Linked DNA regions of Homo sapiens: all the other regions are linked to region 3. The links come from fine-mapping of genetic effects on gene expression. A gene starts in region 3. Each other region holds a variant in brackets. All regions are shown on one strand. Distances are from middle to middle. Region 1 overlaps TEX9 (testis expressed 9). Region 2 has its middle 10 kb from the start of RFX7. Region 3 holds the start of TEX9 (testis expressed 9). Region 4 has its middle 23 kb from the start of RFX7.

What was found. PIP is the estimated chance that this variant, and not a neighbour inherited with it, causes the effect.
Region 1: its variant is fine-mapped to the expression of TEX9 in minor salivary gland (GTEx, PIP 0.91).
Region 2: its variant is fine-mapped to the expression of TEX9 in testis (GTEx, PIP 0.99).
Region 4: its variant is fine-mapped to the expression of TEX9 in unexposed skin (GTEx, PIP 0.96).

What each region holds. Positions count from the first base shown.
Region 1 is chr15:56,422,603-56,425,297 of GRCh38, reverse strand. The region is part of intron 10 of TEX9 (testis expressed 9); the gene reads right to left. Among named protein-coding and RNA genes, the nearest start is that of MNS1, 41 kb to the left of the region's middle. The variant C/T (reference allele first, on the strand shown) is at 1,366.
Region 2 is chr15:56,252,569-56,255,263 of GRCh38, reverse strand. It overlaps a transcript of TEX9 not described here. Among named protein-coding and RNA genes, the nearest start is that of RFX7, 10 kb to the right of the region's middle. The variant G/A (reference allele first, on the strand shown) is at 1,250.
Region 3 is chr15:56,364,331-56,367,025 of GRCh38, reverse strand. It overlaps TEX9 (testis expressed 9), which reads right to left and starts at 1,600. Exons shown (of 12, transcript NM_001395496.1): 1 at 1,549-1,600; 2 at 1,356-1,447. The coding sequence starts at 1,575. RefSeq lists enhancers at 1,307-1,356, 1,897-1,946, 1,957-2,136.
Region 4 is chr15:56,265,812-56,268,506 of GRCh38, reverse strand. It overlaps a transcript of TEX9 not described here. Among named protein-coding and RNA genes, the nearest start is that of RFX7, 23 kb to the right of the region's middle. The variant C/A (reference allele first, on the strand shown) is at 1,600.

The sequences.
Region 1 (2,695 bases), 58 kb before region 3:
GAAAAATTGCCAAATTTAAGGAAAGAAATGGATACACAAATACAAAAAGCTCCATGAACTCCAAGTAGGATAAACCCAGAGACCCACAGCAAGACACATTTTAATCAGTCGAGTGTCAGACAAAGAGAAAATCTTGACAGCAACAAGACAAAATGGCTCATCACATGCAAGGGAGCATCTGTAAGATTATCAGCAGATTTTTCAGCAGAAACTTTACAGGCCAGAAGTCAGTAGGATGATATATTTAAAGGGCTGAAAGAAAAAAACCTAGAAGAATACTACATCCAGCAAAGTGTCCTTCAAAAATGAAAAAGAAATTAAGACATTCCTAGATAAGAGCTGAGGAACTTCATTACCACTGTATTTTCCCTACAAAATCCTAAAGAAAATCCTTCAAGTTGAAACAAAAGGATACTAGACAATAATTCAAAGCTATATGCAAATATGAAATTCCCCAGTAAATGTAAATATTTGGACAAATATAAAGGCCTGTATTATTTTAATTTTGGTTGACAACTCACTTTTCATTCTTTCACTTTTCATTCTTTTCGAATTTAAAAGACAAAAGCATAAAAAATACTATAAATCTTTGTTAATGGGTACATAACCTAAAGATGTAATTTGTGACACCAGTAACACAAGGTAGGGCAGGGGCTGAAAAGGAGTAGAGTCTTTATATACGATTGAAGTTGCATCATTACACAAAATCAACTAAACAATAAGGCAATAAGGAAGGAAATGAGAGGGTAAAAGTCCTCAAGACATACATAAAATTGTGAACAAACAGCAACAGACCTCCCAAAAACTTTAAATGTAAATGGACAAAACTCCCTAACCAAAATAAATTGAATGGAAGAATGGATTTTTAAAAACCAAAATCCAACTATATGCTGTCTACATGCAACTAACTTTAGATCCAGAGATATGCATAGGTTTAAGGTAAAAAGATGGAAAAAGATAATCTGAAATTTTGTAACCAAAAGAACACAGGAGTGACTACAGTAATATCTGACAAAATAGACTTTAAGTCAAAACTGTTAAAACATACCAAGAAGGACATTATATAAGAACATATGGGCCAAACAAAAGGGCCAGTTCAGCAAGAAGATAGATACAATTATATATGTACCAAACATTAAAGTGCCTAAATATATGAAGCAAGCATTGACAGACTTGGAGAAAAGACTACTCTATAGTAAAAGTAGACTTCAATACCCCACTTCCAATAATCAATAGAATCACCGGATGGAAGACCAATAAAGCAATAAGGGACTTGAACAACATTATAGACCAATTAGATTTAAGAGACATAAAGAGTAGTCCTCTAACACAAAGGCATAAGAAGGATATAATGGACTCTAGGGA[C/T]TTGTGGGGGAAGGGTGAGAGGGATAAAAGACTACACATTGGGTTCAGTATAGACTGCTCGGGTGATGGGTGCACCAAAATCTCAGAAATCACCACTAAAGCACTTATCTGTGTAACCAACACCACCTGTTCCCCCAAAACGATTGAAATAATAAAGAAAAAATATAATCATATACCAGAACAGACAAATATGGAGAGACAGGAAGTAGATTAGTGGTTGCCTAGGGCTAGAATGTGGTGCAGGGTGTTGGGGGAATATAGAGTGGCTGTGAATGGGTACAGACGTTCTTTTTGGGGTGATAAAATTGCAAAATTGATTGTGGTGATGGTTGCACAACTTTGTGACTACTAAAAACAAACTTATTTGTATATTTTAAGTGGGTTGCATGGTATATGAATTGTATCTCAATAAGATGTTAACGAAAAAAATAAGAGAATACAGTTTTCTCAAGTGCACATGGAACATTCCCCACATTTTATAAGTCATACAAAGTATATTTTCCAATCACAGTTGATTCAAACTAGAAATCAACAGCGGACGGAAAACTGGAAAATCCACAAATATGTGGGGATTGAACAAAACACTCAAACTACCAAGGGGTCAAAGAAGAAATCACAAAGCAAATTGGAAAATATCATGAGGCAAATGACAACAAAGCTACAATACACCAAAACTTATAGGACAGAGTATAAGCACTGCTAAGAGGGAAATTTGTAGTTGTAAATGCTTACATTAGGAAAGAAGATTTCAAATCAACCTGACTTTACACATCAAGGAACTAGCATTTCACTTTTCTCTAGGAGACATTGATATCTGTATACCCTTGTTCAAAGCAGTGCAACTCATACTAGCCAAAAGGTTGGGAAGCAGCTCAACTGTCCACTGATGGATGAATAAACAAAATGTGGTATGTAAATACAATGATTATTAAGCCTTAAAAAGGAATGAAATTCTGACACATGCTACAACTTTGATCAACCTTGAGAACATTATGTTAAGTGAAATAAGCCAGTTAAAGAAAAACAAATATGGTATAATTCTACTGACGTTTACTTCCTAGAGCAGTCAAATTTATAGAGACAGAAAGTACAATGGTGGTTGCCAGGGTCTAGAGGGAGGTGGAAATGGGGAGTGGCTTAATTGGTAGAGAGTTTCAGTTTTTGCAAGATGAAAAGAGTTCATGGATAGGTTGTATAACAGTGTGAATCTATGTTACACTACTGAACTATATGCTTAAAATGTTTAAGAAGGTAAATCTTATGTGTAGCTTACCACAATTAAAAATTTTTAAATTAACAATGTAGAGTTTATAGATAAAACATATGACAA
Region 2 (2,695 bases), 110 kb after region 3:
TTCACCTGCCCCCTGCTTTTGTAAAGTCTTATCGCACATTCATTTACATATTATCTATGACTGTTTTCACACTACAACAGCAGAGCTGAGTGGTTGCAACAGAGTCTATATGGAACACAAAACTGAAAATATTTACTATCTGGTCTTTTACAGAAAACATTTGCCAACGTCTAATCTAGATTTTAATTTTATGCTATTAATTTTAAATATATGTCATATTTAGACAAATCATCTCTTTTCTCTCCACTGATTCTTGAATGCTTCACCTTCATCTTTCTTGGATTCATCATTTATTTTGTTAAAATTTATCCTATAGTCATCCTTTCAAAGAGATTCTATTGGTGATACATATGTCCTGAGTTTATTTCAAAAATCATGTTTTTAAATTTCTGGGATCATTGTTTCATTTTCATGGATGTAATATCTTGAACCTCTTTGAGGATAATTGTTATATTTGTGATATTTATAAGTATATATTTTATATACAATAATTATATTTTCTTAAAATTATAAAATTTATAAAAAGAATTTGTATTCATCTTTTTTAAATTTATAAACTCTCTTTCGTTAGGTATTATTTTTTCTGAGTTTGGTGTCTCTGCAAACTTGTATTATTCTTGTATTGGATTATTCTTTTACTTTATAAATAAGAATCCCTGTTAGCTCTCTCCTTCTGCTTGATGTGGGTCAACTTGTGATTATAGGTGAAGGGAAGGGCATATTGCTGGGGAGAGTGTTTCTTTTCAGAGTGAGGAGCCTCCCTGTGCCTCCTGGGGTCCACTGCTACTCTTCTGTCTGTTGGCTCTCAGAATCCACAGGCTCACTACTTAATCTGTGGACAATTACAAGCAAAAGAAGGGAATGTGAGTAGCAGTCCAGCTGCTCCAAATGCAGTGTTTCAGTTAATCACTCTGGCCATTACCCTAGGATGTCCTATTCATAGAACCTGTTCTCTCTGAGCTTGTAGCATCCCTGAAATTTATCCTACCTCCTCAGCAATCTAGAGCCAAATGTACGGCACAGTTGCTCTAGTATGTTTTTCTAAAGTCTGATCCCATCTCCTGAAAATTTCTCATACACTTACGGCATTTTTCTTGTCCCCTGTCCTGTTACCAATTAACCTCACCCCCTTTAATCTTTTCTGTCATTTCATAAGATTTGGTAGAGGTAACTTTCCTGCAGGCTGGCATCTTGATTTACTCTTCATACACAGGATTTTTGAATTAACTCTTTCAAAACACCATTAAAT[G/A]TAATTTGTGGGTGATAACCTATGTTCTTGCCATTTTTATTTCAAAACATTTAAAAAGATACTCAAAGTTTCTTTGACACAGAGAGAAAAGTGAAGCCCTATTCCAACAATTCTCTGAGGGGCAAGTCTCAAGTCACTTGCCTTTAACAACACATTGGGTAGTCTATTCCATTTTTTTTTAATGTTCTTTCATGGGAGTGGGAGACACTGATTGTGAAGAGCTGTAATTTTTAGCCACTTTTTCCACCTTATACATTGGGCAGCGATAAGTGACATTTTCAGTCAGATTTGGCTAACAAGCTCATCCTGTTATGGAATTCTACTCCCTCCCTGCCATACCTCAATTCCTGACTGCTGAGTAGCCTGTTCAGAGTACATCAAGAGCTAACTTTAACAGCTTTAATACTCACTAAGAGAACCCTTCTGAGAGTAGCTAGAAAGCACAGACCCTCATCTCTAATATTATTTGGGGTTTTGAGTCCCTGAATAGCTAGTGTCATTTGGCTTTCTTTAGGGACCTCAGAAGGGATACGTGTTTAAAGTTCCTATAAATATTGTGTAAGATTTTCCAACTGATTATGAAGACCTTCCGTTCTTTCTCCTTTTTCAGTTCTGGGGTTGATATTTGGAGGGGGTTAAAGTCAGACACCTCTGTACACTCCCAGGACTCTCTGACATAGCATGTGTTGAACCTCTCCTTGTTTTATGATTTTTGGGGTTTTTTTGCTTGGTGTAGGCAAAATTTTTTCTTCTTGCCATCCAATGGTGCCTCTTTCCCTATCTGCTTTGTGCATTTCAAACACGCAGAGTTTGAATGTCCTTCTGTGCTCTGATCAAGGAATTTCTTGCAGCAGCTATCTTAGGTGCCGTGTGGCTTTTAGTGATCATGACCTGTGCTTTATCAGACTATAAAGTAGTGGCATGTAAAAACTAGGCTGCCACCACTTTTGGTTTTCAGGACTCCTGTCATTTTTAGGGCCCTTATCCCCTGCCATCAATCTATTCCTTCCCTTCTCCTCTCTACCTTCCAGAAAAAAAGGAAGGGAAATTCATAATTTATTTGGCTTTTACTATGTGTAAAGCATTGTGTGGAGTATTTTCAGAAATATTTTTCATTAAATTATCAGTACAACTGAGTGAAGGAGTTATTATCCCCACTTTTACCAATTGGAAAACTGAGGCTCAGAGAAGCAAAGAACTTGCCTGAGATCACAAAAATGGCAAGTGGTAGAGCTGAGATTTGGATCCTAGACTCTAAATTTGGAAGCCCGGGGGATCTCCATGAGGGTCAGCCTCAAGCCTCATCTGCCCAAGAGTGTGGATCTGAATTCAGATAAGAAACTAGAGGTTACAGGAAGCACGCAGCAGACTCTTTTCCTTAAAAGGAACAAAGCTGGCCAGAGTACCTTTAAATCTGGAGAATTGTAGCACCAGATGTCAGGCTGA
Region 3 (2,695 bases):
TAATACTATATGGTTAATGATAATGAAAATAACCGTTTTGATTGAGGCATAGCTGATAAAGAACTATATATAGAAAACAGATTAATTTGCTTAAGTACACTTTTGAACTGGGATAATCGGCCCATTTCATCAGAGAGAAGAAGATATGATTATCTTCCTACTTGCTGTGGTAAATTGGTCTGTGTATAGTTCACCTAAACACAGTACCTTTCAGTTTTAATTTCAAATATGCTTATAGATCATATGTAGATCATACGATAACTCTAGTTTAACCCTCTGATACAAACTGCCAACTATTTCCAAATTTTAATCTAGTTATTTTATATTAAAACGGAAGGGAGTTGTTAAAAGGCACTTTTTTATAAGGGTATGTATGATGGCAAATAAAACAGACATCGCCTCTGCCCTTGGAACTTACAGTCCAGTGGAGACAGACAAAAAGGAAATTCACAAATGAATTTATTGTAACAAATTATGCTAATTAGAAAGAAAAATCACTGAGACAATGAAAAAGACCAACAAGGGAGCCTACTTAGCATGGTCAAGGAAGGCCACTCACATTACAGGTTGAAGGCGTGTGTGACTGTCTCTTTCCTGAGATAGAAAGAAAACCTGGAAGAGTTTTTGGAACTAAAAGGCCAGTGAAGCTGGAGAGTTTTAGGGGGAAAAGGGGAAGAGGGAATAAGATCAAATAGAGGAGGCAGGAGGAGCCACATCGATCAGAGCTTTTGAAATGCAACAGGAAACTACTGTAGAATTTTAAGCAAAGGCATGGTAGATCAAATTAAAAGATTACACTGGCTGCTGTGTGAAAACTTGGGGATGAGGAGTAGAATGGGCCAAGAATGAAAGCACCGTTGTCAGGATAGTTGTAATTACACTGAGAACAGATAAGAAAAGGAATATTTGAACGAGAATGGTAATTCTGATTGCAGTGGGAAGCATCCTTTCAATTTAGAAACCAACCTAAAGGAAATTTACACAAGGTAAACTCTATGAACTTGATATTAAGCGAAATAACCTAAACTATCAAGTGAACTAACTATTCGTGGCAATTCCTGCTACCCAAATAACTTCCAACAGTATCTTGCTGTTTACTTGGGCTACGTTTTAAATTAAACAACATGCTTACTTGGGCTAAATTTTCGCCCACTTCAAATATCTTCTAATACGCAGGCGAACTACTCAGATCAAAGACAAAGAAAGGATAAACGGCAGGTGAACGAGATGACGAGAAGGGAATGCTGCAGAGTGAGTGGTCCCGAAGATCCAGCCAGTCTCCAGAAAAAAGTACTTGTAAGCAGCCTCATTCAGATGAAAGAAAGAAGGAAAAGTTCAACCGCCGAATTTCTTACTTATATTCTTCCTCCAAGGCGAGGAGGTCGGGTCCAGGTGTAGAGGGTTGCTGAACGGGTGGCGGGAACGGAGTCCCTGGAACGCTGCTTCTCTGTAAAAGAGCCACAGACTTTCAGACCCGAAGTTAAAGGAAGTTAGGCGTCCTAGTCGCCGGAACCCAGACGCTCCCCAGGAGCCTGGAGTTGAACTGACCGTGAGACACAGACTTCGCCCCGCCATCTTCGGCGACTGCGACGCGGTTACCGAGGCAACGACGCATCTTCCCGCGAGAGTTTCCACATCCCGGTTGCCTCCCGCCCGGGCGCCTACGCCTTCCCACTCTCAGGTTCTGTGCTGCGAGCGGCGCGAGCCTCTGGCAGCGGGCTCGGCCTTTGCTCGCAGCACTCGGCGCTGTCCCAGGAACCCAGGAAGGCTTCCTAACTGCAAATTCGACTTAGTTAGTGCAAATTCTCAACTTGTGGGGGTTGAAAGAGTTTCAGCCAAAACAGGCAGGTCCTTTGCCGCTACTCTATAGAAAGCAAGCTGGTGAGGCAATCCCTCCCTGTTGTGCTTTTCAAACCGTTAGTGGCTAATCCGACCTTCACCCCGTTTGCTTAAAGTGAGCTCTTCAGTGGAATTCAGAAGTTTTGATTTCTAATTTTTGTTTACAGCATGCATGGCTAAGACTCAGGCTCTCAAGTTAGTCAACCTAAATTATTATCCTGGCACTGCCACTTACCAGTTATATGGCCTTGGGCAAATCACTCTGTATATCGGCCACTTCATTTGTCAAATGGAAGTGAGAATAGTGCCCACTTCACAGTTATTATGAGAAGCAAATGAATTCGTGCTTAGGATCATGCCTGAAACACGTAAGCGGTTAACAATTTCAATTGTTTTGGAATAAAATTGACATCCAAAAATAAACCGTGATATGATGTATGGTCATCTGATCTTTAGAAAGGGTGCAAGACCATTCAATGGGAAAATAATTGTCTTCAACAGATGGGGAGACAACTGGATATCCAAATGCAATTAGACCCTTAACTTCACACCATATACAAAAATTAAAATGTATCAAAGACCTAAACTTAGGAGCTAAAACTCTAAAGCTCTTCAAAGAAACTGTTGGTGTAAATCTTTATGACCTTGAATTACAATTCTGAGAATCCTTGATGGATTCTTAGATATGACACCAAAAGCAGTAGCAAAAAAAAAAAAAAAGAAAAGAAAAAAGAGGCTGGGCACAGAGGCTCATGCCTGTAATCCAAGCACTTTGGGAGGCCAAGGCGGGTGGATCACCTGAGGTTGGGAGTTCAAGACCAGCCTGACCAATATGGAGAAACCCCGCCACTCCTAA
Region 4 (2,695 bases), 99 kb after region 3:
GTATTGATGGGACGTATCTCAAAATAATAAGAGCTATTTACGACAAACCCACAGCCAATATCATACTGAATGGGCAAAAACTGGAAGCATTCCCTTTGAAAACTGGCACAAGATAGGGATTCCCTCTCTTACCACTCTTACTCAACATAGTGTTGGAAGTTTTGGCCAGGGCAACCAGGCAAGAGAAAGAAATAAAGGGTATTCAATTAGGAAAAGAGGAAGTCAAATTGTCCCTGTTTGCAGATGACATGATTGTATATTTAGAAAATCCCATCATCTCAGCCCAAAATCTCCTTAAGCTGATAAGCAATTTCAGCAAAGTCTCAGGATACAAAATCATTGTGCAAAAATCACAAGCATTCCTATACACCAATAACAGACAAACAGAGAGCCAAATCATGAGTGAACTCCCATTCACAATTGCTACAAAGAGAATAAAATACCTACGAATCCAACTTACAAGGGATGTGAAGGACCTCTTCAAGGAGAACTACAAACCACTGCTCAATGAAATAAAAGAGGAAACAAATGGAAGAACATTTCATGCTCACAGACAGGAAGAATCAATATCGTGAAAATGGCCATACTGTTTAAGGTAATTTATAGATTCAATGCCATCCCCATCAAGCTACCAATGACTTTCTTCATAGAATTGGAAAAAACTACTTTAAAGTTCATATGGAACCAAAAAAGAGCCCACATTGCCAAGACAATCCTAAGCAAAAAGAACAAAGCTGGAGGCATCACGCTACCTGACTTCAAACTATACTACAACCCTACAGTAAACAAAACAGCATGGTACTGGTACCAAAACAGAGATAGAGATCAATGAAACAGAACAGAGCCCTCAGAAATAACACCACACATCTACAACCATCTGAACTTTGACAAACCTGACAAAAACAAGAAATGGGGAAAGGATTCCCTATTTAATAAATGGTATTAGGAAAACTGGCTAGCCATATGCAGAAAGCTGAAACTGGATCCCTTCCTTACACGTTATACGAAAATTAATTCAAGATGGATTAAAGACTTAAATGTTAGACTTAAAACTATACAATCCCTAGAAGAAAACCTAGGCAATACCATTCAGGACATAGGCATGGGCAAGGACTTCATGACTAAAACACCAAAAGCAATGGCAAGAAAATCCAAAATAGACAAATGGGATCTAATTAAACTAAAGAGCTTCTGCACAGCAAAAGAAACTACCATCAGAGTGAACAGGCAACCTACAGAATGGGAGAAAATTTTTGCAATCTATTCATCTGACAAAGGGCTAATATCCAGAATCCACAAAGAACTTAAACAAATTTACAGGAAGAAAATCAAACAACCCCATCAAAAACTGGGCAAAGGACATGAACAGACACTTTTCAAAAGAAGACATTTATACAGTGAACAGACACATGAAAAAATCCTCATCATCACTGGCCATCAGAGAAATGCAAATCAAAACCACAATGAGATACCATCTCACACCAGTTAGAATGGCAATCATTAAAAAGTCAGGAAACAACAGGTGCTGGAGAGGATGTGGAGAAATAGGGACACTTTTACACTGTTGGTGGGACTGTAAACTAGTTCAACCATTATGGA[C/A]GACTGTGTGGCAATTCCTCAAGGATCTAGAACTAGAAATACCATCTGACCCAGCCATCCATTACTGGGTATATACCCAAAGGATTATAAATCATGCTGCTATAAAGACATATGCACACGTATGTTTATTGCAGCACTATTCACAATAGCAAAGACTTGGAACCAACCCAAATGTCCATCAATGATAGGCAGGATTAAGAAAATATGGCACACATACACCATGGAATACTATGCAACCATAAAAAAGGATGACTTCATGTCCTTTGTAGCGACATGGATGAAGCTGGAAACCATCATTCTGAGCAAAGTATCACAAGGACAGAAAACCAAACACTGCGTGTTCTCACTCATAGGTGGGAATTGAACAATGAGAACACTTGGACACAGGGCAGGGAATATCACACACCGGGGCCTGTCATTGGGTGGGGGGGATGGGGGACGGATAGCATTAGGAAAAATACCTAAAGTAAACAACGAGTTAGTGAGTGTAGCAAACCAACACGGCACATGTATACATATGTAAGAAACCTGCACATAGTGCACATGTACCCTAGAACTTAAAGTACTAAAAAAAAAAAAAGAAAAGAAACCCCATCTCTACTAAAAATACAAAATTAGCCAGGCATGGTGGTGCACACCTGTAGTCCCAGCTACTTGGGAGGCTGAGGCAGGAGAATTGCTTAAACCCAGGCAGTGGAGGTTGCAGTAAGCCAAGACTGCACCACTGCACTCCAGCCTGGGAGACAGAGTGAGACTCTGTCTCAAAAAAAAAAGAGAGAAATTACATAATGACAAGCAACCAATTCACCAAGAATATACAAAAAAATGCATAATAATCACACATCTAACAAAAGATTTGCAGAATATAGGAAGTAAAATCTGACAGAATAAAAGGTATTAGATAAGTCCAAAATTATGGTTGGTGGCTCAGAGCACCCAAGAACTGTGGTATCATATCAAAAGGTCTTTTGAATCAACACTTTTCTCACTGTAATCAATAAAGCAGTAGGAATGAAAATCAGTAAAGGATTAAAAAGCCTGAACAATACCATCAACCACCTTGACCCAACTGATATTCATATAATAGGCCACCCAC